4 linked regions of the Homo sapiens genome follow. The protein of the gene in region 1 interacts with the protein of each later gene in a pairwise test. Each region holds a gene or a part of one and is shown in the gene's direction. Other genes may lie near its edges.

The links.
Region 2: the proteins of GABBR1 (region 1) and CHFR interact in a two-hybrid assay, tested with the Homo sapiens proteins (one large-scale study listed by IntAct).
Region 3: the proteins of GABBR1 (region 1) and CCR8 interact in a two-hybrid assay, tested with the Homo sapiens proteins (one large-scale study listed by BioGRID and IntAct).
Region 4: the proteins of GABBR1 (region 1) and BDKRB1 interact in a two-hybrid assay, tested with the Homo sapiens proteins (one large-scale study listed by BioGRID and IntAct).

The regions. Positions count from the first base shown.
Region 1 is NC_000006.12:29,628,728-29,636,865, reverse strand, and holds the start of GABBR1 (gamma-aminobutyric acid type B receptor subunit 1 isoform a precursor), read left to right. Parts: upstream 1-3,682; 5' UTR 3,683-4,016; intron 4,017-4,083; exon of another isoform or gene 4,084-4,169; coding exon of another isoform or gene 4,170-4,184; intron 4,185-4,480; coding exon 4,481-4,565; intron 4,566-5,264; exon of another isoform or gene 5,265-5,266; coding exon 5,267-5,470; intron 5,471-5,476; exon of another isoform or gene 5,477-6,222; coding exon 6,223-6,408; intron 6,409-7,758; coding exon 7,759-7,779; intron 7,780-8,138.
Region 2 is NC_000012.12:132,857,893-132,865,367, reverse strand, and holds part of CHFR (E3 ubiquitin-protein ligase CHFR), read left to right. Parts: intron 1-2,942; coding exon of another isoform or gene 2,943-3,035; intron 3,036-3,733; coding exon 3,734-3,901; intron 3,902-6,140; coding exon 6,141-6,300; intron 6,301-7,475. UniProt on the Homo sapiens protein: E3 ubiquitin-protein ligase that functions in the antephase checkpoint by actively delaying passage into mitosis in response to microtubule poisons.
Region 3 is NC_000003.12:39,324,311-39,332,508, forward strand, and holds the start of CCR8 (C-C chemokine receptor type 8), read left to right. Parts: upstream 1-5,398; 5' UTR 5,399-5,519; intron 5,520-8,007; 5' UTR 8,008-8,021; coding exon 8,022-8,198.
Region 4 is NC_000014.9:96,262,237-96,269,238, forward strand, and holds the end of BDKRB1 (B1 bradykinin receptor), read left to right. Parts: exon of another isoform or gene 1-375; intron 376-415; 5' UTR 416-534; intron 535-1,436; 5' UTR 1,437-1,446; coding exon 1,447-2,508; 3' UTR 2,509-2,527; downstream 2,528-7,002. UniProt on the Homo sapiens protein: This is a receptor for bradykinin. Could be a factor in chronic pain and inflammation.

The DNA.
Region 1 (8,138 bases):
AATAAAAGTTGAACAACAAATATGACGAAAGAAAAGTGTGCAGGCCCCGCACAGTGGCTTATGCCTGTAATCCCAGCACTTTGGGAGGCTGAGGCAGGTGGATCACCTGAGGTCAGGAGTTCGAGACCAGCCTGACCAATATTGTGAAACCCTGTCTCTACTAAAAATACAAAATTTAGCCAGCCATGGTGGTGTGCACCTGTAGTCTCAGCTACTCGGGAGGCTGAGACAGGAGAATCGCTTGAATCCGGGAGGCGGAAGTCGCCGTCAGTCGAGATCACGCCATTGCACTCCAGCCTGGGTGACAAGAGTGAAACTCCGTCCCCCCACCAAAAAAAAGAAAGAAAAAAAAAGAAAAGTGAGGGTGGAGGGAGGGAGAGCACGACGTGCGCGCACCCTCTCCCCTTGTCCACTGCTGCCGCCTCCTTCTTCTGCCGCTCCTGGTGCTGCTTGTGTGCTCGTTTGGAGCGGACCTGGTACCTCTTTTGTGAAGCGGCAGCTGAGGAGACTCCGGCGCTCGCCATGGCCGAAGAAAAGCCCAAGGAAGGAGTCAAGACTGAGAACAACGATCATATTAATTTGAAGGTGGCGGGGCAGGATGGTTCTGTGGTGCAGTTTAAGATTAAGAGGCATACACCACTTAGTAAACTAATGAAAGCCTATTGTGAACGACAGGGATTGTCAATGAGGCAGATCAGATTCCGATTCGACGGGCAACCAATGAAACAGACACACCTGCACAGTTGGAAATGGAGGATGAAGATACAATTGATGTGTTCCAACAGCAGACGGGAGGTGTCTACTGAAAAGGGAACCTGCTTCTTTACTCCAGAACTCTGTTCTTTAAAGACCAAGATTACATTCTCAATTAGAAAACTGCAATTTGCTTCCACCACATCCTGACTACTACCGTATAGTTTTCTCTATTCTTTCATTTCCCCCTTCCCCATTCCTTTACTGTACATAAAGTAACTGGTATATGTGCACAAGCATATTACTTTTTTTTTTTAAAACTAAACAGCCAATGGTATGTTTTGATTGACATCAAGTGGAGACGGGGCGGAAAAATACTGATTCTGTGAAAATACCCCCTTTCTCCATTAGTGGCATGCTCATTCAGCTCTTATCTTTATATTCCAGTAAGTTATTTTGCTCTCACTGTTTTAACAACAACAACAAAAAAACAACAACATAAAAATCCTTGCATACCTTGTTCAATTGGAGAATTTTAATGTTTTTCATTTATCATTGTAAAACCAAGGACAATTTTATAACTTTTTTGTACTTAGCTGTTACATGCAGAGCAATCTGTCTTTAAGTAGGGATAAATTACTCTAAAACAAAAAAGAATCCTAGATAGTTTTCCCTTCAAGTCAAGCGTCTTGTTGTTTAAATAAACTTCTTGTTTAAAAAAAAAAAAAGTAAAAAAGAAAAGTTATGCAACAATTAATGGCCCAGAGGCAATCCTTGTTAACATTTTGATGCATCTTTTAGCTGTTTTTTTTTGTTTTTTTTTTTTGACTGAGTTTGACTCTTGTCACCCAGGCTGAAGTGCAATGGCATGGCATGATCTTGGCTCACTGCAACCTCCGCCTCCCGGGTTCAAGTGATTCTCCTGCCTCAGCCTCCTGAGTAGCTAGGATTACGGGCATGCACCACCATGCCTGGCTAATTTTGTATTTTTAGTAGAGTTGGGGCTTCTCCACGCTGGTCAGGCTGGTCTCGAACTCCCAACCTCAGGTGATAAGGGAAGGGGCACTATTGACATTTATGGTTGGGGCAGAGGTGTAAGATATTCTTCAAAGCACTACCTACATGTTGAAGAATTGTTCCTCACCCAGATTCTCAAAAGTCCCCCAGGACATTCACGTAGTGAAAACCTGTGTTTAATTATCTGAGCCTATAACTTAATACAGTTTTAAAATTTTTTTTTAAATATACAGTGAACTTTCTAGGAATGCAATTATAGTTGTGTGTAAAATTAGGGAAAATTAACTTTGCTACCAAGAGTTGTTCAACATTTTGTTAAATCACTTCATTGATGGCAACATGCTGGAGGTAGTTGAGTCACCAACTCAGCACCTGGATCAGCCTGTGTTGGTAGCAGTTTCATCCCCGTGGTTCTGTGAATAGGTGGAAGCATCTGCTTACTCCATCAGGACTTCTAGGGTAGTCGGGCCTTGGCACTCACACATTAAAATACTGTTTATGTTATTTTATTGCAAGTTACTTTTCTTTCATTTCCCCTTTACGTTACAGAAAGGGAAGCATTTTGCTTTCTGTTTAAAGTTGTGTATGTAGGTAGGTTATATCATCTATGACTTTCTCTCCCTCCTTCCCTTTCTTTTTGTTTGAGATGGAGTCTTGCTCTGTCACCCAGGCTGGAGTGCAGTGGTGCGATCTTGGCTCACTGCAACCTCTGCCTCCCGGGTTCAAGCGATTCTGGTGTCTCAGCTGGGATTACAGGCGCACACCATCACACCACGCTAATTTTTCTATTTTTAGTAGAGATGGGGTTTCGCCATGCTGGCCAGGCCAGGCTGGTCTCAAACTCCTGAGCTCAAGTGATCAGTCCGCCTCGGCCTCCCAAAGTTCTGGGATTTCAGGCGTGAGCCTCATCTATGAATCTCAATTTAGGACAGTAAAAGTGTCATTACAAAATATTTATTGTAAAAAAGGGTTGGAGGTTGAGAATCTCAATTCTAGTCAGTCTCTCAGTGTTTGGTTTCTTCCTACCATTTTTCCCCCTAGGACCAGCCAGAAAGCAGCTTTTTTTTTGTCCCCCCCAACAAGGAGCCCACTGTTTCCTCTCCCAGCCCAAACTCAGGCCTACGAACAACAACAGCACAACACACACACACACACACACACACACACACACACACACACACACACACACCCCTCCACTTCAAGGTATAGCCAAGAGCTTCTGGAGCCGTCAAAAAGGTCTGTACCTGCTGTCTTTAGAGCTTCCAGTTTGCCCTTGGTCAAGAAATACTGTTTGCTAGGCTCTGCTGGAGTACATCAGGTAATACTGGCTTCTAAACCACCCTGAGGTTCTTTTCTCTTGTCCTTTTACTCCCTTCGTACTTCAATTTCTCTCCTTGATGTCCCCCTCCCTGTTTTGTTTTTTGCCTCCAATCCGTTCTGCGCGTTCCCTGCAGAGCAGGCGAGTAGCAATGCTGCTGGACCATGGAGCTGCTCTAGTCTCCCAGAAATCTCTTCTACACCCAACCCTTCTTGCGCTTAGGTGGTCCTCAGTCCCCCTCCCCCACCTCCTTCTGACCCAGGCTTCTTTCTCGCCCTCCGGTCGCAGTTCTCCTGGGCATCTGCCTCTGCCTCTCTCCTCTCACCCGGATCTAGGGCTGCCTTCTCTTTGTGCAGCCGTCTTTCTCCACCTTCATCCCAGACTCCCTGTCTCAGCGCCAGCTCCTCTGCCTTTGGCTCGGGTTCCCTCTCCCCCACCCCAGCTTCCAGTTGTTTGGCCCGCAGGTCCCTCGGCAGTGACCGGCGCCCCCCGACGAGTGCGTGTGCACCAGGGCACCTCCCTCTCCCCCACCTCTCAGCCCCGCGCCTCTCCACCGCCCGCCCCACCGCGCTGTGGGCGGTCCAGGGCGGGGCTGGGATCCGGGGCGGCTCCCGGGGCTCGGGTTGTGGGAGGCGCCCTCTCCCCGGTCTTCCCCTCTCTTCCCCCCGCCCTGCCTTCCCTTGCACCCTCCTTCTTCCCTCCGCCCGGGAGCTCTCCCTGGTCCCCGGCGCCGCCTCCTTCCCTCCCGGCTCCCCGCTCCCCGCTCCCGTGGCTGCCGCCGCCCCGGGGAAGAAGAGACAGGGGTGGGGTTTGGGGGAAGCGAGAGAGGAGGGGAGAGACCCTGGCCAGGCTGGAGCCTGGATTCGAGGGGAGGAGGGACGGGAGGAGGAGAAAGGTGGAGGAGAAGGGAGGGGGGAGCGGGGAGGAGCGGCCGGGCCTGGGGCCTTGAGGCCCGGGGAGAGCCGGGGAGCCGGGCCCGCGCGCCGAGGTAAGAGCCAGGGCCCCGGGTTAGCAGGGCTCGGAGAGGGGGCGCGCGGCGTGGTGGGGGAGGGGGCAGTGGGCGCAGGGCCCAGCTGGGGGAAGCGGGGCTGGGGGAGAGGAGGAACCGCGGGGATGGAATCGGGGAGCGCTGAGGCGGCCGATGCCGGGAGCGTGGGTAAGCCAGGCTTCTGCGAGCCGCGGGGGCCGGGGGAGAGGAGGTGGTGAGAGGTGGAGTCCCGGGAGGGTTGGGGGCCGAGGGAGGCAGGAGGAGGGTGGGGACAGGCTTTCTCTCCTCCTCTCCCCCCACCCCGCGCGGGGCTCCGCCCCCGCCTCCTCCGCGGGGCGCTCTCTTGGTCCCCAGGCTGAGCCCGGTCGGAGCCTGCGAGGCAACCGGCAAGAGGTCGAGTAGTCTCCGGGTGCGGGCCGCGCCGGCGGGGCTCGGTCCAGTCCTCATGGCCGCCTCTCACTTAGATGTTGCTGCTGCTGCTACTGGCGCCACTCTTCCTCCGCCCCCCGGGCGCGGGCGGGGCGCAGACCCCCAACGCCACCTCAGAAGGTGCATCCTTCTTCGACGACCTCCGGCCCTCCTTCGCTCCACTTCCCTTTCCCTGCATCTCCTCATTTCTGGTCCTCATCACTATCCCATCAGTCCCACATATCATCCCGGTCTGGCAACCCCTTCTGCTCGGCCCGACTTTACTACTGCTGACCTCCTTCTGTCACCCCACGTTACTATCCAGCACCTCTTTTCTCTGCCCACATTGCTACACTATACCACCTTCCTGTGCATTTTCTCCGCCTCAATCCCCTTTCCCAGCCCCACATTACTACCTCAATTACTCCCTTTTCTTGGTCCCACTTTGCTGTCCAGATGATCTTATTAGCCTCCCTTTATCCTCCTATCCTAATTCAACTCGAATATCCTCATTTAGCCTTTTTTTTTAAAGAAAAGCTCCACCCACATATCATACCCTTCATGATTTCTTAATTACTTTTCTTTCTTACCTCCACCCAGCACCCTTCCCTCCCCACTTGTGGGTTCTCTCATCAGCTTTAACCCTGGCCCTTTACTCTCTGTCCTTTAGCCAGGGGATCTGTACCTGTCCCCACTCCCACCCTCTAGTGCCCCATCCCTCTTCCTCTGTCCCCAGCCTGCCCACAGACCACGCCCTACTCTCCCCTTCCTCCCACTGGGGAGCCTGCCTTTTCCTCTTTCCCACCATTCCTCTCTGTATGCCTCCCCGACTCACCCCTTAGGTTGCCAGATCATACACCCGCCCTGGGAAGGGGGCATCAGGTACCGGGGCCTGACTCGGGACCAGGTGAAGGCTATCAACTTCCTGCCAGTGGACTATGAGATTGAGTATGTGTGCCGGGGGGAGCGCGAGGTGGTGGGGCCCAAGGTCCGCAAGTGCCTGGCCAACGGCTCCTGGACAGATATGGACACACCCAGCCGCTGTGGTGAGTAGCCTCGGAAGCCCCTCCCCTCTTCAAGACTATTCCTTTTCCTGCCGCAAACTTAGCATTACTGCTTGCAAGTCAGCACTTTAAATCCAGTATACCAAAATTCACAAATACATTTATTGAATGACTACTACATAAGAGCAATTTTGCTCTGTGCGGTTGGAGGTAGTAGAGCTAGCAGCCTGCACAGTTCATTTCATCCTCCCTTCATTAGGCCACTGATCATTGGCCTATAACATTGATAATTCATCTTGTCAGTTATTCTCTTTGAGGATCATTAGTGGCAGATGATGACAAAAAAATTCTAAAATGATTTCATCACATTTTTGAATACCTCTGTCACCAACCCAGAGACCATATGCCCAAGAAACAAAAGCCAGTTTAATATTAATAGAAGCCAACTATAATAAGAAAAGCAAATCTGATTGTGCATCCAAAGTTATATACATCTACATATTTCAAAGCCAGAGAACCGCCCACTGTAGCTGACTTTGAAGAGATCCCATTTTGTGTGCTTATAGCCCCATCTTGGGTTCCTAAAATGGTAATTTTTTTTTTCTTTTGGGAATGTGTGGATGCTTGCACAGGTAAGGGAGGATTGGAAGATAGGTAGGCAAATCCTTTTCACATGTGATTTTCTTTAGAGCAGGATGCTTGTGGACCCAAACCTGCACCTGAGTCCCCTGCTCTTTAAAGGGAAAGAGCCTTCTTCAACTCGCCTCTCTTCTTATTTTCCTATCTCTCCACAGTCCGAATCTGCTCCAAGTCTTATTTGACCCTGGAAAATGGGAAGGTTTTCCTGACGGGTGGGGACCTCCCAGCTCTGGACGGAGCCCGGGTGGATTTCCGGTGTGACCCCGACTTCCATCTGGTGGGCAGCTCCCGGAGCATCTGTAGTCAGGGCCAGTGGAGCACCCCCAAGCCCCACTGCCAGGGTGAGGGGAACAGCTGCCTGCATGCAGCTGATGAGGACGCTTGTGTGAGGATGGGAGTGGGGTGGGAATGGATAATGGGAAAGAATGGAGAGCTATAAAAATGTGGGGGAGGACACTGGAAAGGGGAGATGAAAGTCCCTTTTTCCTCCATCACCTGCCTCAAACTTCCTCTTGCAGTCCCCGGTATCCTCTGTAGGTTGGGGGCTTCCTTCCTTTACCTTTTAAAAAAATCTTCCTGCTCCCGATTCTTAGACCTCACGTTTTCTCTTTTCCTTTATGAATCTCACCTCTCTCACCTTCTTCAGGTTTAAATACTCCAATTTTCCCTTTCTCTAAACTTAGAAATTTCCATGCATCACCCTCTTCTAGAATTCATCCCTCACCATTCCTTATATAATTGATTTATTGTAAAGACTCAGAAATAAATCAAACATTCTACTAAGAAAAATTGAGAAGGGGAGCTCTGGGGGTGGAAACATATTAGGGTAAAAGACTTAAAATTGGAGGCAGCATTATCAGAAGATGAAGAACAACTCAGGGATGGGGTGGGAAGAAGACAGGTCCTTTTCTGTACTTCCTAGACAACCTCCATTATTCCCTAAGGGAATCAGTGTTGTGTCTGTCTACTTTTTTTTTTTTTTTTTTGCCACGTAATTTTACAAACTCTCCCTTTTCTAGGCACCCGAACTCTCTGCCATCTTCTCTCCTGGGATGCAGTCATCCCATTTGTATGCCTCATACTTCCTCTACCCTGGTAGATTCTTTCAAGATCCTTGGGCTTTACTTTCCTCACATAACTCAGTTATTCTGCTTCTAGTTTACCATTTTATTCTGGAAATTGAGAGTCCCATCCAGGGGTGGACTTATGACACTACTGAAACTTAGACTTCAAGGTTCCTCACCTACAGGGCCCTCTTCCTGTGCTCTAATAATATAGAGGGCTCGATGGATATGTGTTCATATGGTAACAGGCTTTTGTAAAAATTGCAGAAATAAGATTTTAACAGCAATTGCTTAAAGCCAATTGTATGTGTAATTTTTTTTCTTAAAGACTCCCAATTTTGTAATATTCAGGCACCACAGAACCAAGATCTGCCCCAAACTTAGCTATTGGCATTCCCGTCTCAAATTCTGTTGTCCTATGAAAAATCGAAGAAGAAAATAAGTCCTGACCCCCTTACCCCCAGACCCACCTTGTTCTTATCCCCAGGCACCCTCCCCTCAGAAACGCAGGCTTCTGCTCTCCCCGGTCTTCAGCATGGACAGGTGTGGGAGGGGGCTGGGGATCAGGCCAGGGAAGCTGGGCGCCAGTGGTAACTCTTCTCTGATCCCCGTCTTTCCTGCTGCCAGTGAATCGAACGCCACACTCAGGTGAGATGAGAAACCCTTACCGCGCGCACTGCAATGCCCTCCCCTTCACTCTGCACCCTCCACCCCCCTGAAATTCTGCCCTTAGGCTACGGGGCGTCGTCCTTTCGCACCTTCCCCAACCCACCCCAGTTTGCGGCCACCCCCTTCCCTCCCTACCTGTTTCCTGCCTCCAGTCCCGGTTTTCCACGAGGCTGCGGTCTCTCCTTGTCCCTGCTTGGCTACACTTCCCTGGGCTCCACCTCCTCCCAGACTGAGCCTCGCCGGTGTCAGGCAGAGCCCAGCAGAGGGCGGCAGGGTGCTGGGAGACCCTGAGCTCCCACCACGTTTTCCCCTGTGGGGTTCCTTGCGACCTTCGCTGG
Region 2 (7,475 bases), on another chromosome or scaffold:
GAAAAGAAAACATGCCAGATTTGAATAGCCACCTGAATGCTGAAGTTTTACCAGCTCTCTTGGGCTGTGTACCCTTCATCGTATCTTCCAGGTTCCTTAAAACCTACCCTTGGGCACAGCTGGGATGTGCACTGGCTCTTCACAGCTAGATCCAGCATGCACTGACTCTCCCCGTGCAGGGACAGCCCCAGAGGAATAGAGGTGGCGTTCCGGCCGCTCCAGCGTGGCCCACAGCGTTTCAAGTGCAGCAAGCACAGACAGGACGCGGGGTTACTAGTATTTTGGATTGACTGCAGATTTTGAACTGTCTGCCTAGATGAACTATACCATGTCCCTAGGGCCAAGTCCCATGTGCATTTTGTGGCTACTAGACCCTCTTCAGAAATCAAACACAAAATAGCTCTGGCCTGTAAAGAAAACAAACTTCACCAGTAAAATTGTTTCCTGTTCCTATCCACCAATGTGCATAGCACAGTGTGTAGTCTGGGTAATACGGTTTGCATAATTTTTTGATAATGTTCTACTTAAAAAGGGCAGCGTATTTATATATTACTTATGTAATTAAAAAAAAAATTCTTCTGGCCGGGTGTGGTGGCTTACGCCTGTAATCCCAGCACTTTGGGAGGCCGGGTGGTTGGATCGCCTGAGGTCGGGAGTTCAAGACCAGCCTGGCCAACATGGCAAAACCCCATCTCTACTAAAAATATAAAAATTAGCCAAGTGTGGTTGCGGGCGCCTGTAATCCCAGCTACTCGGGAGGCTGAGGCATGAGAATCTCTTGAACCCAGGAGGTGGAGGTTGCAGTGAGCCAATATCCTGCCACTGCACTCCAGCCTGGGTGACAGCACAAGACTCTGTCTCAAAAAGAAAATAAAAATAATAAAAAATAAAAATTCTTCTATCTGTATGCCTAAGTGTATGCATACTAACAAAATAAGTATAGTTACTGCTTATTGAGCAGCTACTAAATGTGAGGCAGTGTGCCAGGTACATTCTGTAAGTGGTAAGATGGTGCTCCTCTCCACGTTGGCTGAGCACGGGGCGCTGGAGATGATGGCGTGAGTGGGTGCCGGCTGGGGGCCGGCCCACAGGCTGTCTCTTTCCTTCTGTTCGTATATGAGGTGGTTTGTCCCCAAAACTATTCTGTTTTCTTTCAGCTGCTGTAAGCCAGTTTCTTGTGTTTTTTTTTTTCAAATAATAACACTTACATTTGAATACTGTAAGCTAGATATGTATTATGCTGTAATATGATAAACTAAGTCTTTATTAAGATATAGGTTATTCACACCTGTAATCCTTATTCACACCTGTAATCCTTATTCACACCTGTAATTCCAGCACTTGGGGAGGCCGAGGTGGGTGGATTGTTTGGGCTCAAGAGTTTGAGACCAGCCTGGGTAAAATGGCAAGACCCTGTCTCTACCAAAAATACAAAAAACAATTTAGCTGGGCATGGTGGTGCACACCTGTAGTCCCAGATACTCAGGAGGCAGAGGTGGAAGGATCGCTTTAGCCCAGGAGGCAGAGGTTGCAGTGAATGAAGATCTCGCCACTGCATTCCAGCCTGGGTGAAGAGTGAGACCCTGTCTCAAAAAAAAGATAGAGGTGATTAGAAAGTCTGCCTGTTTTTCTGCCAAGGTCATTCCTGTCGTTATGACTCTGGCTTCTTGCTCGTGGAGATAGCGCTCTCCCTACAAGTCACTGTGCTGTATCCTTCCCGTTATCACACCTCTTGTAAAATAGTTCACACGCAGCACCATCTCCACCCGTTGGAAGCTATGCATCCCTCCACTGGAGCATCTGTGCTTTACACAGACTTCTGTTTTTTTTTGTTTGTTTGTTTTGTTTTACTTTGTTTTTTTGAGACGGAATTTTGATCTTACTGCCCAGGCTGGAGTGCAATGGCGCGAACTTCGTTCGCTGCAACTCCGCCTCCTGGGTTCAAGCAGTTCTCCTGCCTCAGCCTCCCAAGTAGCTGGGTTACAGGCATGTGCCACCACACCCGGCCAATTTTGTATTTTTAGTAGAAATGGGGTTTCACTGTGTTGGTCAGGCTGGTCTCGAACTCCTGACCTCAGATGATCCACCCACCTTGGCCTCCTGAAGTTCTGGGATTACAGGCATGAGCCACCGCGCCTGGCATTTTTTTTTTTTTTTTAAGAAATGAGGTCAGGCCGGGCGCGGTGGCTCACGCCTGTAATCCCAGCACTTTGGGAGGCCGAGGTGGGTGGATCACGAGGTCAGGAGATCGAGACCATCCTGGCTAACACGGTGAAACCCTGTCTCTACTAAAAATACAAAAAATTAGCCGGGCGTGGTGGCGGGCACCTGTAGTCCCAGCTACTCAGGAGGCTGAGGCAGGAGAATGGCGTGAACCAGGGAGGCAGAGCTTGCAGTGAGCCAAGATCACGCCACTGCACTCCAGCCTGGGTGACAGAGTGAGACTCTGTCTCAAAAAAGAAAAAGAAAACAAAAGAAATGAGGTCTTGGCCAGGCACAGTGGCTCATGCCTTTAATCCCAGCACTTTGGGAGGCTGAGGCAGGTGGATCATGAGGTCAGGAGATCGAGACCATCCTGGCTAACACGGTGAAACCCTGTCTCTACTAAAAATACAAAAAAATTAGCTGGGTATGGTGGCGGGTGCCTGTAGTCCCAGCTACTTGGGAGGCTGAGGCAGGAGAATGGCGTCAACCCAGGAGGCGGAGCTTGCAGTGAGCCACTGCACTCCAGCCTGGGCAACAGAGCAAGAGTCCGTCTCAAAAAAAAAAATGAGGTCTTGCTCTGTTGTGCAGGTTGGGAGAGTGATGTGGTCATGGCTCACTGTAGCCTCGAACTCCCGGGCTCAAGTGATCCACTCACCTCAGCCTCCTGAGTAGCTGGGACCATATGCTCGTACTGTCACGCCTAGTTAATTTTTTTTTCTTTTTTGTATTTTTTGTAGAGATGGTGCCTTGCTGTGTTGCCCAGGCTGGTCTAAAACTCCTGGGATCAAGTGATCCTCCCACCTTGGCCTCCCAAAGTATTGTGATTACAGGTGTGAGCCCCATGCCCAGCCTCAGACCTCTATTTTTTATTTTTATTTTTTTTTCCCCAGAGGGAGTTTCGCTCTTGTTGCCCAGGCTGGAGTGCAGTGGCACGATCTTGGCTCACTGCAACCTCCGCCTCCCGGGTTCAAGCAATTTTTCTGCCTCAGCCTCTTGAGTAGCTGGGACTACATGCACTCGCCACCACGCCTGTCTAATTTTTTTGTATTTTTAGTAGAGATGGGGTTTCACCATGTTGGCCAGGCTGGTCTCGACCTCCTGACCTCAGGTGATCCACTTGCTTCGGCCTCCCAACGTGCTGGGATTACGGGTGTGAGCCACCGCACCCGGCCCAAAGCTCTGTTGTAACAAGTTTATGACACAGTGTGTATCATATGACCACGGGTATGTGGGTTTGCCCTGCGTTAGACTCGGTGCTCGAGGGCTAAGCCTGGTCACAGACATCTCCGCATTTGTTTCTCTGCAAATGGGCTCCTTGCCCCCAGCTCCACCCCACGTAGAGATAGGCACAAATAGAGTTAAGATGTGAGTTGAGTGAGCACACACTCCTCGTAAGCCACTTGTCATTCCTAAACTACGACATCTCAGGCTGCCAGCTGCACTGGGCTCCAGTCAGTGACACCTTACAGGCATGGTTCTCTCCTGAGCTGGATGGATCAGCACCTATCTTGTTTGATTCCTCTCACAGGGTCTGGGGGTGGTGGCATCTCCCCTAAAGGAAGTGGTCCCTCTGTGGCAAGTGATGAAGTCTCCAGCTTTGCCTCAGCTCTCCCAGACAGAAAGACTGCGTCCTTTTCGTCGTTGGAACCCCAGGATCAGGAGGATTTGGAGCCCGTGAAGAAGAAAATGAGAGGAGGTTAGTGTCTGGTTGTGTGTGTCCTCAGTCCTCTCGTGTGCTCCTGGGGCATGCGGGGGCCGCTGCCATGCTCCGTGCTGTGGGGCATTGCTTCCTGCAGGGGCATGTGGACCCTGCCTCAGGTTGATGCCTGTAACACCTCCGGCATTTTCATTCAGAAAACCTGGGCCTGTTTTTTTGCGGTTTGCATAATCCAGATAGAACTGTGATTTGCTACAGGCTGTTCTCTTGGTCTGGAAATAGTGCATTCTGAATTGCAGAATTAATCTCAAAATCCTCCTTCCTGGCCAGGTGCAGTAGTTCATATCCGTAATCCTAACACTGGGAGGCCAAGGCAGGAGAATCACTTGAGGTCAGGCGTTCGAGACCAGCCTGGGCGACAGAGCAAGACTTTATCTCTAAAAATAAAAATCAAGCCTGACACCGTGGCTCCCGCCTATAATCTCAGCACTTTGGGAGGCCAAGGTGGACGGATCATCTGAGGTCAGGAGTTCAAGACCAGCCTGGCCAACATGGTGAAACTCCGTCTCTACTAAAAATGCAAAAATTAGCTGGGTGTGGTGGTGCATGCCTGTAATCCCAGCTACTTGGAAGGCTGAGGCAGGAGAATTGCTTGAACCCGGCAGGTGGAGGTTGCAGTGAGCCAAGACTGTGCCATTGCACTGCAGCCGGGGCAACAAGAACAAAACTCCATCTCAAAAAAAAGAAAATCAAAAAGAAAGCCCTCTGTCCTGGTAGGACAATAATTTCTAAAAATGTAGCTTAAATCTTCACATTGAAGATGATTTAGGGAGAAGTCTGCACTTTGAAAGCCAAAGTTAAGATTATTAGAAAACATTTGGGAATGTTATGGTAGAAGCATTGCTGTATAGCAGTCCAGAGAGCAGCCAGCCACTGGGGCACTGTGACAGGAAGGTTCTAGGAGGGGTCCCCAGGGAAAGAAATTAGGTTATCTGACACGTGGGGTTGATCGGTGTGGGGAAGGTGTGGAAAGAGTCAGCAACAGTTACACAGGAAAAATAAGCACAGGAATGAGGAAATTTTAATTCTAGCAAACATGAAAAATTGTGTAAGTCACACAACTTAATCTAGTAAACTACTTGGCTCAGCAGTGAATACTTGCATAAGCATAATAATACAAATACAGTATCATGAACTAATGTAATCTGTTAATGTAATGTTGGCAGGGGTGTCTCAGGACAGAGTTTTTCTCTACCTTAATAGATGTCAGGAATGATGTCTAAAATTGATAAATCAAATGTACCATGATAACTTAGAAACACAGAGGTAAATACCAGAAGAAACAGCTCAAAGACATGAAAATAGTTTTCCTCCGAGGAGGGAAATTGGGTGAGGAGCGGCTGAGACGGAGGGTGACTGCCTTTGTTTTCTTCTAAATATATTATGTATACATTTTTTTAAGAGACAGGATCTTGCTTTGTCACCTAGGCCAGAGCGCCGTGGTGCAGTCTTGGCTCACTGCAGCCTCCACCTCCTGGGCTCAGACTGTCCTCCCACCTCAGCCTTCCGAGTAGCTGAGACCACAGGTGCACGCTACCATAGCTGGCTAATTTTTTTTCCCATTTTTTTAGAGATGGGGTTTCATTATATTGCCCAGACTGGTCTTGAACTCCTGGGCTCAAGCGATCTGCCCACCTCAGCCTCCCAAAGTGCTGGGATTACAGTTGTGAGCCATTGCACCTGGCTTCTTCTAAATACTTGGCTTTTTAAATTGTGTACAGTTTCTTTAATTAAAAATAAAAATTAATTGATTACCAACATCTGAGCATTATAGAAAAATAAAAACACCAGAAGAGGGTGGGGCGCGGTAGCTCACACCTGTTACCCTAGTACTTTGGGAGGCCGAGGCGGGTGGATCACGAGGTCAGGAGATTGAGACCATCCTGGCTAACACGGTGAAACCCTGTCTCTACTAAAAATACACAAAATTAGCCGGGCGTGGTGGTGGGCACCTGTAGTCCCAGCTACTCAGGAGGCTGAGGAAGGAGAATGGCATGAACCCGGGAGGCGGAGCTTGCAGTGAGCCGAGATCGCGCCACTGCACTCCAGCCTGGGCGACAGAGCGAGACTCTGTCTCGAAAAAAAAAAGACTGCATGTATTTCCTTCTCGGTTACGACAGTTAGAACACATCCCTTTCTCCTGTGGACGGGGACCTTGACCTGAACCTGCGTGTATTTCCTTCTTGGTTACGACAGAACACATCCCTTTCTCCTGTAGATGGGGACCTTGACCTGAACGGGCAGTTGTTGGTCGCACAACCGCGTAGAAATGCCCAAACCGTCCACGAGGACGTCAGAGCAGCGGCTGGGAAGCCAGACAAGATGGAGGAGACGCTGACATGCATCATCTGCCAGGACCTGCTGCACGACTGCGTGAGGTGCGACCGTGTTCACCCTTGGCTCACGGAACATGGCACTGCAGGTTCTTCGTCCCGTGTGGGGCAGGGCTGGGCATGAGACAAGCCTGCAGGTCCTGTTTGGCCTGGCATCTGCTGAGGTTACTCTGTCACCCAGATAAGTGGGTGGAGTGGGTGGAGTGGGTGGAGCTTTCTCAGCCCACTGCAACCTCTCCCTCCCAGGATTGAGCGGTTCTCTGACCTCAGCCTTCTGAGTTGCTGGGACTACAGGTGCACACCACTATGCCTGGCTGACTTTTTTTTTTTTTTTAATGTTCTAAATATTTTTTATTCCTTTTTTTTTTTTTTTTTTTTTTTTTTTTTAGATGGAGTCTCGCTCTGTCACCAGGCTGGAGTGCAGTGGCACAGTCTTGGCTCACTACAACCTCAGCCTCCCGGGTTCAGACGATTCTCCTACCTCAGCTTCCTGAGCAGCTGGGACTGCAGGCGTGTGCCACCATGCCCGGCTAATTTTTTTGTATTTTTTAGTAGAGACAGGGTTTCACCATGTTGGCCAGGCTAGTCTTGAACTCCTGACTTCAGGTGATCTGCCCACGTTTGCCTCCTAAAGTGCTGGGATTATAGGCGTGAGCCACTACTCCCAGCCACCCTGCTGATTTTTGTGTTTTTTGTAGAGACGGTTTCGCCATGTAGCCCGGGGTGGTTTTTTGTTTTTGTTTTTGTTTTTTGGAGTTAGAGTCTCGCTCTGTCACCCAGGCTGGAGTGTAGTGGTGTGATCTTGGCTCACTGCAACCTCCACCTCCCAGGTTCAAGTGATTCTCCTGCCTCAGCCTCCCAAGTAGCTGGGACTACAGGCATGCGTCACCACATCTGGCTAATTTTTTTGTATTTTTAGTAGAGACGGGAGTTTCACCATATTAGCCAGGCTGGTCTCGAACTCCTGCACTCAGGTAATCTGCCCACCTTGGCCTCCCAAAGTGTTGGGATTACAGACGTGAGCCACCCCGCATGGCTACCACTTTCATTCTACTCGTGGCACCAACAAGGAGGAAACCTGGAACCCAGAGCCGGAGGCTGTAGACCCCACAAGTTTTGAGTGTGTGGGTCGTGTGTGACCCCGTGAACTCTGCAAACAGATGAAAGGAACTCTGCACATTTTAAATGCTCCTTATCTGGGAAGGTGTATTTCGCATAGA
Region 3 (8,198 bases), on another chromosome or scaffold:
ACTGCGCCCAACCCTCATGAAAGCTTTATTCCCATTTTACACACGAAGATCCTAATGCCTTGTCAAAATGTGACCAGCCACACTAACATCACCTGGGAGCTTGTTAGACGTGCAGAATCTCAAGGCTCAGAACTGCTAAGTCATAATCTGCTGCTTAACAGGAGTCCCAGGTGATTTGGGTACACATTAAAGTAGCACTGGACTAAAACTCAGAAAGGTTTAGTGGCTTTCCCAGGTTTCCAGAGCAATGTGGTAGCCCAGTTGGGACAAGGCTCTGGAGACTCCAAGAAATGCTTTTCTTAATGCTTCACTCCCGGCTGGAAGGCACACCCATTCTTTAAGGCCAGCTCCCTGATCTCCTCCACATTCTTACCCTGAAGACCCAGGAAGAATCAAGAGTCCCTTTTGCTCCTGAAGCCCTTCATGTATTCCTCTGTCACAGTAATGAATGCATTTGGCCTTGTAACAAGATGGAGAAGAAAAGAGGGAATAAAACAGTATTTCACAAACCCCTCTTCTATGCAGAGGAACAGGGTAAATATTATCAGGAGTGAAGAAGAGAAGTATCTTGACATTCTACGTTTACCCTTAACTTGTGAGCATTTTTCCTGGGCAGAGGCGAACTCTTCCTAGTTTCCCCTTAAGAGTTTTTCATGTGGCCCAGGTACTGAACATAAGATAGACTTGGAGAGGCCATTGGTTCTGGAGGACTCACACTACTTTGGCCTCATATTTTTTTTTTCTCCCCAACTTCATAATGATAAACTCAGGCTTCCTTTGTGTACCACTTTTGGCAATGCAGGTGCTTTTTGCAAGTCAATGGGAGAGAATTACAAGTGTGGCTTATTAAATTGATCTCCAATTTAATCAATAAATCATTCACAACATGAAAATGTGTTTGCTTTGAATTAGTGCTTGATAGCAATTTTCTATTTCCTAAAAACTTGTAATTGAAATGACAGCGTGCCTTTATTAAAGAGAATTTTAAGAATAAAAAGAAATAACCTAATATAAGATTGTTTTAATTTCTGCCTATTTCATTCTGGATGTACCCACACTCATCCATGCTTCGCAAAGAGACAGTCATAGTATACATGCCACCTTAATCATAAAGATTTCTCTGGGTTTCTACATGGTTTTCACAGTGATACTTTTTCCTTTCATTATTCATCATTCTTCAGAGAACCATCACCTCCTGGGACTCCTGTGATGAAAGTGCCATGATTGCTAAGCTCCTTAAGTGAGGAAATCATAAATTTCATTTTTTTATCCCTTCTAATGGCAAAAGCAGTTCTGAGAATATGCTAGGCACTTCAGTGCTTGTAGCCTTGGAAAAAGGTGGTGAGCATGTTTGTAGAAGATAAATTCTGGGAATAAAGCACCACCAAAAGGCTAAGAGATTTAGCCGGGCATGGTGGCATGCACCTGTAGTCCCAGCCAATCTGGAGGCTGAGGCAGGAGAGTCTCTTGAACCTGGGAGGTGGAGGCTGCAGTGAGTTGAGATCATGCTGCTACAGTCCAGCCTGGGCCACAGAGGAAGACTCTGTCTCAAAAAAAAAAAAAAAAAGAAAGGCCGGGCACAGTGGTTCATGCCTGTAATCCCAGCACTTTGGGAGGCTGAGGCGGGTGGATCACCTGAGGTCATGAGTTAGAGACCAGCCTGGCCAACATGGTAAAACCCCGTTTCTACTAAAAATACCAAAAATTAGCCAGGTGTAGTGGCGGGCGCCTATAATCCCAGCTACTAGGGAGGCTGAGACAGGAGAATCACTTGAACCCAGGAGGCAGAGGTTGCAGTGAGCTAAGATTGCACCATTGTACTCCAGCCTGGGCAACAAGAGCAAAACTCCGTCTCAAACAAAACAAAACAAACCACTAAGAGATCTAATCAATTATTCTGGCACACAAGGTAATATGAATTTCCTGAAAATGCAACTAAAAATACGTTATTAACCACATTTCTCCATATTCAACCCTTCAAATCAAAATTATGATGATACCTTTTTTTGTATTCTGACAATTGTCATGATTACTCTTATGAAGGAAATAAATAGTAGTAAAAAAGAAAATCTGTTTCTTGTTACTCTTTTTTGTAATCCATATGGGAAATTAAATTATATAGACAGCAAAACTGGCTTTACTATTAATAACACACGAGCTTTTCTTAAACTCTGGCTTTGTCTAACACTTTTCGTTAAGCAAATGCATTTTTACCCTACAAATCACTGAGGGACTGACATATAGTTGAAAACTATAGAAAATACAGAAAGACTTCCTCTAGTCTTATCCACAACTCTTCATAATGTTATTGCACGAGAATTTTGAATGTGGTGCAGTAAGAAAAGCACCCTCAGCTGTGCCTCGGAAGACCTGAGTTCTGGCTCTGGCTCTACCACCAAATTACTGTGTGATTTTGGGTGAGCCACTTTGCCTCTCTGGACTTAAATATTACTACTTTGAAAGAAAGAGAGGGAGAGAGACATCAGCTGTATGACCTGAGGCCATTTTCTGCCCTAATACTCTATGACAAATATCTGTGATAGTAGTAATTTCTACATTTACACTTAGGGTTTATTTAAATACAGTTTTTTCTTTCTCTTTATTTTGGAGGAAAGGAGGTCAAATATGCTGCTAGTCTCTTTTTCCCTCTGAAGTGAAATACAGTCTTTTGAACCTTTGGAGGGACCCAGTAGAATTGAATTTAGATGGGATGTCCCCAATGGATCTGATCCAGCATTTTCAGAACCCATTGAATGTGCAGCAGAAGGTAGACTTGGAGAGGCCATTGGCTCTGGAGGGGTCACACTACTTTGGTTTTGTAGTTTGGTTTCTGCTGCCTTCCCATAGAATGCCTGAATCCCTGATGTAGGCCCAAAGGTGAGGAACCAAGGCTTGTCAGTTAACTATGTCACAGTTTGTCTGTCTTCCGAGTCAGGATGTTGTGGGTTGAATAATGGTCAACCAAAGAGATGAAGTCTTAATTCCTAGAACTTGTAAATGTTACTTTACTTGGGAGAAGAGCTTCTGCAGATGTGATTAAGTCAAGGATTTTGAGATGGGGAGATTATCATGGATTACCTGGACGGATCCTAAATCCAATCATGAGTGTTCTCATAAATCAGAGGTGGGTGAGATCTGATGCAGACACACAGTGGAGAAGGAGATGTGAAGATGGTGGAGATTAAAGTGATGTGGCCACAAGCCCCAGGTTTGCTGGGGCAGCCACCAAGAGCCAGAAGTGGCAAGGAACAATTCGCCCTTCAAGCACCCAGAAGGAGGCAGCCCTGCTGGATTATAGCCATCTGGCCTCCAGAACTGGGGGAGAATACACGTCTGCTGCTCTAAGCCACTAAGTTGGTGGTAATTTGTTACAGCAGCCACAGGAAACAAATACACAGGTGACAGCAGGCAAGTGTCCAGTCCTGCAGGGGCCCACACCAGCCCTCAGATCTGGCTCAGGAAACACAAAAAGAGGAGCATCCTTCCATTCTGGCTGTTCAGTCCTTTCCTCCAACTCTTCACCAGACTCCACATCTCCACCTTGCCTCATTCTCTCTGTTCAACTATTTATTAAGAAGTTGCTGTGCACTAAGCACTGTGCCAAGTATGGAGGAGCAGCTGATAAAAGAATCCTCAGGAACTGAAGATAGAGACTGTTTGGGGTTTAGATCAGCTTGCACTAGAAACTGGGCTTGGGGGGAATTCCACCTTAGTCCCTCAGGCCTTGCTTAACTGGGCTTTGGAGGGGAAGGTGGCTTCCCCCACACCTGCCCTCACTGATGAGGCGGTCCCATAGTTCCCACCATCATGACATGGACTAGTAATACCTGAGGGCCCTGAGTTCTCCATCGGCTCACCATTGATCTTTGCTTATCACATACAAAACTCTCATAAAGGAACTGGGTTTTCCCCAAACTGCGTCAAAACATGAATGATGGTGAGGGGAATTTGCCGAGGTATGAATTCAGGTACCAGCAGATATTTCCTTTTATTTTTTCTTTAGAGACAGGTCAGTGGCTCAATCATAGCTCACCTCAAACTGCTGGACTCAAGTGATCCTCCCACTTTAGCTTCCCAAGTAGCTGGGACTACAAGTGCATGCCACCATGCCTGGCTAATTTTATTTAAAAAATTTGTACAGATGATGCATTAGTCCGTTGTCACACTGCTATAAAGAAAGACCAAGATTGGATAATTTATAAAGGAAAGAGGTTAAATTGACTCACAGTTCTGCATTGCTGGGGAGGCCTCAAGAAACTTATAATCATGGTGGAAGGCAAAGGAGAAGCAGGCACATTTTTCACAGGTCGGCAGGATGGAGTGAGTGCAAGCAGGGAAAATGCCAGGTGTTTATAAAACCATCAGATCAGATCTCTTGAGACTCACTCACTATCATGAGAACAGCATGGGGGAAACTGCCCCCATGATCCAATTAACTCCACCTGGTCCCGCCCTTGACACATGGGGATTATGAGGATTATAATTCAAGATGAGATTTGGGTAGGGACACAGAGCCAAACCGTATGAGATGGGGTCTTGCTATGTTGACCAGTCTGGTCTTGAACTCCTAGGCTCAAGCAATCCTCCTGCCTCAGCCTCCCAAAATGCTGGAATTACAGATGTGAGCCACCGTACCTGGCATCCAGCAGATATTTCTACTGCATTTCTCCAGGAATGAGTGGGTTGGAGATGAGGAGATTCTGGAACTTCTGTCATTTCCTCCCAACAATTCTGGGACTCATGTTCACTCTCCTGGGATAGGGGAAACTGACTTAAAGTGATTTTCAAATGGCATTCCTGTTGAAAGAGTTAATATATGTACATGCATACAACATACACACACATTTGTGTATGCTACATACCATGGAGGAAAGCCAGTCCTGGTATAAATTGTATAACTTCAAAATAATAATGGAATTATGATTTCATTTTAATACTGATTTCAATTAAAAATTTTAATAGACTATTTTTTAGAGGTTTTAAGTTTACAGAAAATCTAGGTAGACAACACAGAAAATTCCCATTAACCCCTGTATTAGTCTGCTAGGACTTCCATAACAAAATACTACAGGCTGAGTAGCTTAAACAACAGAAATTTGTTTTCCCACAGTTCTGGAGGCTAGAAGACCAAGGTGCCCACAAGTCTGGTTTCTGGTGATGCCTATTTACCTTACTTGCAGATGGCTGCCTTCTCCCTGTGTCCTCACATGGCCTTTCCTCTGAGCACCTGGAGGCAAGAGAGTGAGCTCTGGTGTGTATTCCTCTACCTAGGAGACACCAGTCCTATTGAATTAGGGCCTCAGCCTTACGATCTCATTTAACCCTCATTGCCTCCCTTTAGGTGACTAGGTGTGAGGGTGGAGCCCTCAAGAGACTGCCTTCTCTCCATCTGCTGTTTGTAGTGGGAGGATACCTCCAGAGAGGCTGCTGCTCATTGAGCTGCACTCACATGAGGATACAGACTTTGTGAAGAAGGAATTGGCAACACTGAAACCTCCAGAACAAAGGCTGTCACTAAGGTATGTGCTACAAGCATCCTTGGGGAAGAAGGGCATGAGTAGGCAGGGGCATTTTTATATCTTTAGAGGATAGGCAAAGGGAAGACCAAAATTTCAGAGGTCTAGCACAAGAAGTAAAATTTTTTTTTAAATCTTTGCATTTCCTCAGAGCCCACAAACATGCATGTGTCTTAGTGGCTGCCCATGCTCTGGCTGAGGAGAGCAAACCGTGCCATATTCTCTGCAGGCCTTTAGGAGAGAGTGAAAACTCCTACAAGAGTGGGAAGGTAGATAAGAGAAGATCCTTTATAATACCAGGCATCTGGGAAGATCTGTCCTTGTGCTGGGTACAGGGCTTCTATCAGGTAACTGAAGGACACCTGGGTGCTGTTCTTAAGGAAAGAAGCCAGCGAGCAAACTTTCATATGACTAAAGAAGTTGCTGGTGGGTGCCTGTAGTCCCAGCTACTCAAGAGCCTGGGGCAGAAGGATTGCTTGCGCCCAGAAGTCAGGGCTTTGTGTGAGATCACACCTGCGTATAACTACTGTACTCCAGCTTGGGCAACATAGTGAGACCCTGTCTCTAAAAAAATAAATAAATTGCTTGCTTGCTTGCTTGTGCTTTCAAATCATAGAAAAGTAGCAGAGTGGAGAGGGGTGTCTGAATGTAAAGCAAACAAATGCCTTGGAAAAATATGTCTGGATTGAAATTGCATTGAATGTATATATCAATTTGAGAAGAATTGTCAAGTTTTATAATTTTTATGTAACTGAATTGCATTTTTATTAGTTTTATTCCTAGTAATGCTAGTAATTTTCATTGCTAGTATAATTGGGATCATTTTTCTATTGCATTTATAAAGTTATTTTTTTTCTGGTGCTTAGGAAAGCAATTAAAAGAATAAACTGATGAATATCATGCAGATATATCTCTAAAACAATAAGCAAAATACAAAGGGAAAAACAATATATCATTTATGTAAGTTAAAACAATATATCATTTATGTAAGTTAAAACACACAAAAATATATATTGTTTATGGATATATATAAATATGTAAAAGTACAGGGGGAAATTGTTTGGAATGATACATACCAAATTGGTTTTAGTTGTTGTTTCTGTTATGGGGATAAGTTGTGTAGTTAAAGGGAACATTAGCTTCATCTCTATTGCATCAGAAATAAAAAAAGAAAGAGGGATGGAAGGAAGAGAGGGAATGAGGGAGGGAGAAAAGAAGGGAGAAAAAAAGAAGGAAGGAAGGAAAAAAAAATAACCCAAAGCATTGTGAGAATATGTTAGCAGCTGCTAATTCTAGGTGATGGAACTATGGGTATTTACATTTTCTTTGTAAGTTTTGGCTTTTCTCATCTCAGCTGACTCCCTTTGGTTTACATAACAAAATACAATAGACTGAGTGGCTTAAACAACAGAAAGTGTTGTTTAACATACTTCTAAAGGCTGGAAGTCCAAGACCAAGCTGCCAATGCAGTTGATTTCTGGTGAGGCTTCTCTACCTGGCTTGCTGATTTCAGCCTTCTTGCTGTGTCCTCACATGGTCTTTACTCCATGCACAAGGGGAGCAAAATTTCTTGTGTCTCTTTCTCTTCTGTTAAGGACACTAGTTCTATCAGATTAGGGCCCTGCCTTTTTTGGTTTTGTTTCTGTTTTCTTTTTTTTGAGACAGAGTCTCACTCTGTCACCCAGGCTGGAGTACAGTGGCTTGATCTCGAGTCATTGCAACCCCTGCTTCCTGGGTTCAAGAAATTGTCGTGCCTCAGCCTCCCGAGGTAGCTTGGATTACAGGCATGTGGCACCATGCCTGGCTAATTTTTGTAATTTTAGTAGAGACGGGGTTTTGCACTGTTGGCCAGGCTTGTCTCGAACTCCTGGCCTCAAGCAATCCGCCTACCTTGGCCTCCCAAAGTGCTGGGATTACAGGTGTGAGTCACTGTGAGAGCCAGGGCCCTGCCTTTATAACCTCATTTAACCTTTTTTTTTTTTTTTTAATTTTAATTTTTTTTTTTTTTTTTGAGACAGAATCTCACTCTGTCGCCCAGGATGGAGTGCAGTGGTGTGATCTCGGCTCACAGCAACCTCCACCTCTTCGGTTCAAGTGATTCTTCTGCCTCAGCCTCCTGAGTAGCTAGGATTACAGGCATGCACCCGCCATGCCCGGCTAATTTTTGTATTTTTAGTAGAGACGGGGTTTCGCCATGTTGGCAAGGCTGGTCTTGAACCCCTGACCTCAGGTGATCTGCCCACCTTGGCCTCCCAAAGTGCTAGGATTACAGGCATGAGCCACAGCTCCCGGTCTATCATTTAACCTTAATTACATCTTTAAAGGCCCAAATAGTCTCACCCACTCCAAATAGTCACACCCACACCGGAGGTTGAGCACTTCAACACATGAATTTGGGGAGGACACAGTTCAGTCCATAACATCCCCCTAATTTTTAAAAAATAAAAATGTTTTTAAGGAGTGAATGTCTTTTATGTGTCTCTGTGACCAGGTCCCGCTGCCTTGATGGATTATACACTTGACCTCAGTGTGACAACAGTGACCGACTACTACTACCCTGATATCTTCTCAAGCCCCTGTGATGCGGAACTTATTCAGACAAATGGCAAGTTGCTCCTTGCTGTCTTTTATTGCCTCCTGTTTGTATTCAGTCTTCTGGGAAACAGCCTGGTCATCCTGGTC
Region 4 (7,002 bases), on another chromosome or scaffold:
CCTGGCTTTGTCATTCATCGCGTGGGGACAGGTGCAGCAGAAGAGAGCAGACAGAAGCACAGGATCTCAATCAGGCTCTTGAATCAGACTGCCTGGGTTTGAATCCAGGCCCTACTGACCAGCTGTGTGACCTCAGACAGGCGACTCCGGGTCTCAGCACTCAATTTTCTAATTGGCCAACTGGAGATGACAATGGCCCCTACCTTGAATGGCTGCCAGGAAGATTAAATGAGAAAATACTTAAATGTGAAACACTTAGAATGGCGCCTGGAACACAGACCATTAATACCATCTAACAGATGTTAGTTGTTATCCTTATTTATTACTCATGCTTTCCTTTCTCTTTTTTCTTTTCTCTCTCTCTCTCTCCTTTTTTTTTTTTTTTTTTTTGTTGTTGTTGTTGTTGTTGAGACAGGGTCTCAGTCCGTCGGCCCAGACTGAAGTGCAGTGGCACAATCATAGCTCGCTGCAGCCTCGACCTTCCAGGCTTAAACGATTCTCCCACCTCAGCCTCTCGAGTTGCTGGGACCACAGGTATGCACCACCATGCCCAGCTAATTTTTGTATTTTTTGTAAAGACAGGATTTCACCATGTTGCCCAGGCTGGTCTTGAACTCCTGGGTTCATCTGATCCATCTGCCTTGGCCTCCCAAAGTACTGAGATTACAGGTGTGAACCACCACACCCGGCCAATACTCATGTTTTTCAAGCCTGTAAGAGGAACCTCCTAGCACTGTCCCCACCCCGGCCACCACACTGGTCCCAGCCCCAACAGGTCAGCTTCCTTTGCTGTTCCCGGGCTTCCCTCAGCTCTATCTCAAGCCATGACCTCTGCCTCCATGTCTGCAGCCCCATGAGGCTGGGGCTGCTCTGTCCTGCATATCTCCAGTGCCTGGCAAGGGGCTGGCAAGAGGTAGAGGCTCATTAAATGCCTGTTAAAACCCTAATAGTAATAATAATAATGGTACAGTTGTTACTAAGACTAATCACTACCTTCCAAAGTCTTTCCTCTATGCAAGGCACGGAGCTAAGCACCCTGTAGATCCTGACAACAGCCCTCCCGTGATCCCACAAGAGAGACACGATTCTCTCCAATGTTTAAAAAGGAAAGTAAAAGTCAATGGTTCTAAGTAGCTCACACTGAGTGATTGTACCGGGATTTGGACTCAGGCACCATCCCTTAAACCAGAGGTCAGCAAACTTTTCCCCCTCAGGAACAGATGGTAAATATCTTCAGCTTTGCAAGCCAGACAGTCTCTGTTACAAGCGCTCGACTCCCCCTTGTAGCATGAACACAGCTGTAGATAATACGTCCAGGAATGGGTGTGGCTCTGTGCCAATAAAACTTTATTGTCCAAAAACAGGTGACAGGTTGGTTTGGCTCATAGGCTGTAGTCTGCCACTTCCTGTTTTATTCTACCTTCTGTTCATTTCAGGTCACTGTGCATGGCATCATCCTGGCCCCCTCTAGAGCTCCAATCCTCCAACCAGAGCCAGCTCTTCCCTCAAAATGCTACGGCCTGTGACAATGCTCCAGAAGCCTGGGACCTGCTGCACAGAGTGCTGCCAACATTTATCATCTCCATCTGTTTCTTCGGCCTCCTAGGGAACCTTTTTGTCCTGTTGGTCTTCCTCCTGCCCCGGCGGCAACTGAACGTGGCAGAAATCTACCTGGCCAACCTGGCAGCCTCTGATCTGGTGTTTGTCTTGGGCTTGCCCTTCTGGGCAGAGAATATCTGGAACCAGTTTAACTGGCCTTTCGGAGCCCTCCTCTGCCGTGTCATCAACGGGGTCATCAAGGCCAATTTGTTCATCAGCATCTTCCTGGTGGTGGCCATCAGCCAGGACCGCTACCGCGTGCTGGTGCACCCTATGGCCAGCCGGAGGCAGCAGCGGCGGAGGCAGGCCCGGGTCACCTGCGTGCTCATCTGGGTTGTGGGGGGCCTCTTGAGCATCCCCACATTCCTGCTGCGATCCATCCAAGCCGTCCCAGATCTGAACATCACCGCCTGCATCCTGCTCCTCCCCCATGAGGCCTGGCACTTTGCAAGGATTGTGGAGTTAAATATTCTGGGTTTCCTCCTACCACTGGCTGCGATCGTCTTCTTCAACTACCACATCCTGGCCTCCCTGCGAACGCGGGAGGAGGTCAGCAGGACAAGGTGCGGGGGCCGCAAGGATAGCAAGACCACAGCGCTGATCCTCACGCTCGTGGTTGCCTTCCTGGTCTGCTGGGCCCCTTACCACTTCTTTGCCTTCCTGGAATTCTTATTCCAGGTGCAAGCAGTCCGAGGCTGCTTTTGGGAGGACTTCATTGACCTGGGCCTGCAATTGGCCAACTTCTTTGCCTTCACTAACAGCTCCCTGAATCCAGTAATTTATGTCTTTGTGGGCCGGCTCTTCAGGACCAAGGTCTGGGAACTTTATAAACAATGCACCCCTAAAAGTCTTGCTCCAATATCTTCATCCCATAGGAAAGAAATCTTCCAACTTTTCTGGCGGAATTAAAACAGCATTGAACCAAGAAGCTTGGCTTTCTTATCAATTCTTTGTGACATAATAAATGCTATTGTGATAGGCTAAATGATTACTCCCGTAGATTGGGGGGTACCTAATCCCTGGACTTGATGAATGTTACCAAATTAAGGGTCTTGAGATGGGGAGATGATCCTGAATTATCCAAGTGGGCCCTATATAATCACAAGGGTCCTTATAGGAGGGAGGCAGGAGGCTCAGAGTCAGGAGATGTGACTATGGAAGCAGAGGCCAGAGGAATTCAGGACGGCCACTACGAGCCAAGGATTGCAGGCACCCTCTAGAGGCTGTAAAGGGCAAGGAAATGGCTTCTCCCCTGGAGCCTCCAGAAGGAATGGGTCCTGCCAACTCCCTGTCTTCAGCCCAGGGAAACAGATTTAGGATTTCTGGCCTCCAGAACTGTTAGAGGATACATTTGTGTTTTGTTTTGCTTTGTTTGCTTTGCTTTGCTTTGCTTTTTTGAGATGGGGTCTCGCTCTGTCACCCAGGCTGGAGTGCACTGGCACAATCACGGCTCACTGCAGCCTCAACTTCCCAGACTCAAGGGATCCTCCCACCTCAGCCTCCTGTAGCTGAGACTACAGGTGTGCACCACCATGCCTGGCTAACTTTTCTATTTTTTGTAGAGATGGTGTCTTCCTGCATTGCCTAGGCTGGTCTCAAACTCAAGGGCTCAAGTGATCCTCCACTTTGGTCTCCCATAGTGCTAGGATTATAGGCGTGGCCACTGCGCCTGGCCCCATTTGTATTTTAAGCCACCGAGTTTCTGGTAATTTGTCATAGCAGCAGCAGGAAACAAATAACAAGTATCGGGTAATGGCCTCTCTTATTACACTTCCATTTGTCTATTCAAAGCTTTCTAGGCTAACTGCCAGGAATACAGGGATGGTATAGCTAGAAGTTCTATATTCAAGGAACTTACATACATCTAAATATTATAATATAAAAAATGAAATGAGAAATTGCATGAACACACCACGGATCCAGCATCTTGCGCCTTCAGCGAGAAAGGGGATGGGTTCCCTCTCAGGTTAGCAGAGAAGACGCTGTGAAGGGAGTCAGCCGTGAGCCTGGTTTCCACAAAGGGTGCAATCTGGATACGTGGAGACAGGGAGGAAGGGCTGGCAGAGGCGGGAAAGGGTGAGCTGCTCACAAAAGAATGCTTGTGCATGCTCTTATTGAACGTGTAATGCATTGGTGCGGGTCTTGCTATGAGAGACCCAACGGTGAGCCTAACGGTGTCTCTACCCTCCAGGGGCTCACAGCAACCAGGACAATAATTAAGGGATTGTCATAGAGCAGGATGCCCGCCACCATCAGGGTGAGGGGTGCCGTGAGAACCAGAGCAGGGCTCCAGTCTGGGTGGCTGGGAGGGATGGTTAGAGAGGGGTTCCTGGAGGAAGAGACACATAAACTGAATCCCAAAAAATGAGAAGCTGGCCAAGCAAAATGGGGGAAAGGAGTGTTCCAGACAGAAGGAACAAAGTAGGCCCAGAGGCAGGTGGGGTTACAGGTTAGGAGGGAGAGGTTGAAGGATGGCAGAGGAGGAGGCGGGTCATGGAGAGAATTGGGGCTGGAGGAGAATGGACAGGCTGGGTCCACCATGGTCAGCTGGCAAAGACAGTTCACCCAGGAAGGATGGTGGGCTCCAGGCAGCTTTGAGGGCCCCATTGAAGCTGGAAAGCGTGGCTGTGTTGTGTGAATTTACTCTGATAATGCTCGACAGACCCAGGAAAGGATTGCTCTGGAGTAGGGTTTAGCCAGATAGACGGCCATACGTCATGGGAGTTGGGGATCCTGGTCAGACTCGGGGGAATGATGGAGAGGGAAGAAACGAGCACAGGGAGAGAAGGAAGTGAAGTGAGATCAGTGTGTTAAAGGATGGATATAGTGAGAGAACCTGGGTGACAGCAAGAAACAGAAGAAGAGCCAGGCGTGATCTTCTGTACACTGTGAAGGGAATCAGCCGTGAGCCTGGTTTCCACAAAGGGTGCAATCTGTAATCCCAGCACTTTGGGAGGCTGAGACAGGTGGATGGCTTGAGCCCGGGAGTTTGAGACCAGCCTGGGCAACATAGCAAGACCCCGTCTCTACAAAAAATACAAAAATTATCCAGGCGTGGTAGTGCGCACCTGTAGTCCCAGCTACTTGGGAGGCTGAGGCAAGAGGATCATCTGAGCCCAGGAGGTCAGGGCTACAAGCAGTGAGCCAAGATTGTGCCACTGCATTCCAGCCTGGCTGACAGAGTGAGACCCTGTCTCATTAAAAGAGAGAGAGGAAGGCATAGCCACAGAGCAGGAATGTTTGAGTAGAACATTCCAGAGGCAGAGCCATCTCAGGAGATGACAAGGACCAAGTGTATCCCTGGCACCAGGTGGCTGAAGTAGAGGGAAGAAGAAGGAGGTTGGAGACAACATAGAGAATGGAGAGGTCAGGTGGTGGGTGGGCCCTACCTGGGCCCTCACAGGCAGGCGGGACATTGTCAGGCCCTGGGGAGGAGAGAGTCCGTGGGCCAGGAGGCCATTCCAAGGTCAGTTTCCATGGAGTGGGGGAGAGGGTGTAGTGACTGGACTCCAAGACACTTGGGGGAATGGGGAGAATGGCAGTCCCCACAGCTGCACGGGAAGGGCTGGTCCTCACAGAATAGCAGCAAAGACTCATTCATTCCAGGAATGGAAAGAATGCCATGTTCTTGGAGCCTGGAGACAGGGTTTGAGAGGCTGGCAGCGGCTGGGCCACCAGGACCTCATCAGTGATAACCCTGTGATCAGTGTTCCAGCCCCTGCAGGTTTCCTGGAGAGCAGAGTGTCGTCAGAAGGCCTGGAGCTGAGCCAACAGGCAAGATCCAGCCTGCACATGTGTTTAATTTGAACCACATGGTATTTTTTAAAACTCCAAGCCCCCAGGCTCTTGAGTTGGTTACCAGTACTGAAACTCCCCATTGGGAGCCAGCTTTCCAGTTTCTTTTGAAAGTTTGGAACATCCAGCAACACTGATTCAATTTCATTCATTCAGCAGATATTTATTAAGCATCTACTTTGTCAGACACTGTTTTGGGCACTGAAAATATGGCAGTGAACAAAAGAGAGGAACATCCCTGGGCCCTTGGAGTTGACCTTCCAGGGTCCCCCCGGGGCTCCAATTCTTTGGTGCTGTGTAGCAGAGGCCCCGTGAACAGGGCGCCCTCCCATCAGGTTCACACGCATGGAAGCTATGGGAGGTTAAGTTTGCAACCCCTCATCCAGACCATCCCTTCACATACAGTCTAGGAAACAGAGAGCAGTAAGACCTGCCCAAGCACACCCAGTGCGACTCAGCAGCCACACACAGGAGTAGGCTCAGTCATCTCATTTAATCGCCTGACTCCCTTGTGAGGTCTGTTTCAGGATGTCCACTTTCTAGGTGAGGAAGAGGAGGCTAAGGAAGGCAGTGCCTGCTCAGACTGCAGAGGCTGGATTCACCCAACTCATCTGACTCCAACACCAATGTGATTTCCAAGCCCCCAGGCAGGAATTCATTGGGCAAAGGCTCTGTGGCAAAGTGGCAAAAGTAGGCAGGAACAGGCAGGAATAGAGAGTGGGAAAGGGAAAATAATACCTGATTCCTCTTCTATTCCGAGTGAGCTGACCCACATATGCCCTCCTTTCTTCTTTTTCAGCCGGCCTTAAGCAGGTGGCTTATCAAAATCCTTTCGAGGTCTTGCAAAAACCAATCCCACACTCGAGAAGAACGTGCTGGCCGGTGAAATCGGACAACATTGCTCACGGGATGTAATTCAATGGTAGACTGCAGCCACAGCCTGAGAACTCAGACACCTGATTTATGAGACGCACATAAGTAACGTTTACCGAAGCCCAGCAAATGGCCCCACAGTGGGAGAGAAACTGGCAAACCCGTACAGTAGAATTCTGTTGCCCTTCTGTGGGGAAGGCCAGTTATTCATTTACAGAGGGAGAAATTTCTGCCTTGACTAAAAGGATCGATGCTGTGGGAAAAGGTAATATATCTGAGTTCCCATGGATCTGGTTGATAGGTTCACCTGGCGTGTTCCATATGGGGCCAGGCCCAGGCCACACCTGTGGTGCTAACACCTGGGGTGGAGGGAGGAATTAGCAAATAGTCTTCCAGCATCCCCAGCTCCAGCACCCATGTGGGCTTCCACTCTCTCCCTGAGAAGGGCCAAGTAGAAAGAGAGAACAAGGTTTCACTCCAATCCGTTCCCAGCTCTGGGTCTGTCCTGGGCTCCAGAACCGCGTGATCAGGGGCCATATGTGGCCTTCACTGCTCTCTGCAGTGGGAAGGTAAGAAAACTGCCCCCACCCTGCCCCATCATCACCCCAATCCATCATGGGGAGTGGGTGGCACTAAGGCCCTCCAAATCCCAGCCTCGGGGAAACTCCCTGATGTTGCAATGGCCACAGGCAGGCTCTTGCTCTCCGGAGATGAGTCACAAATTTGATGAGGAGC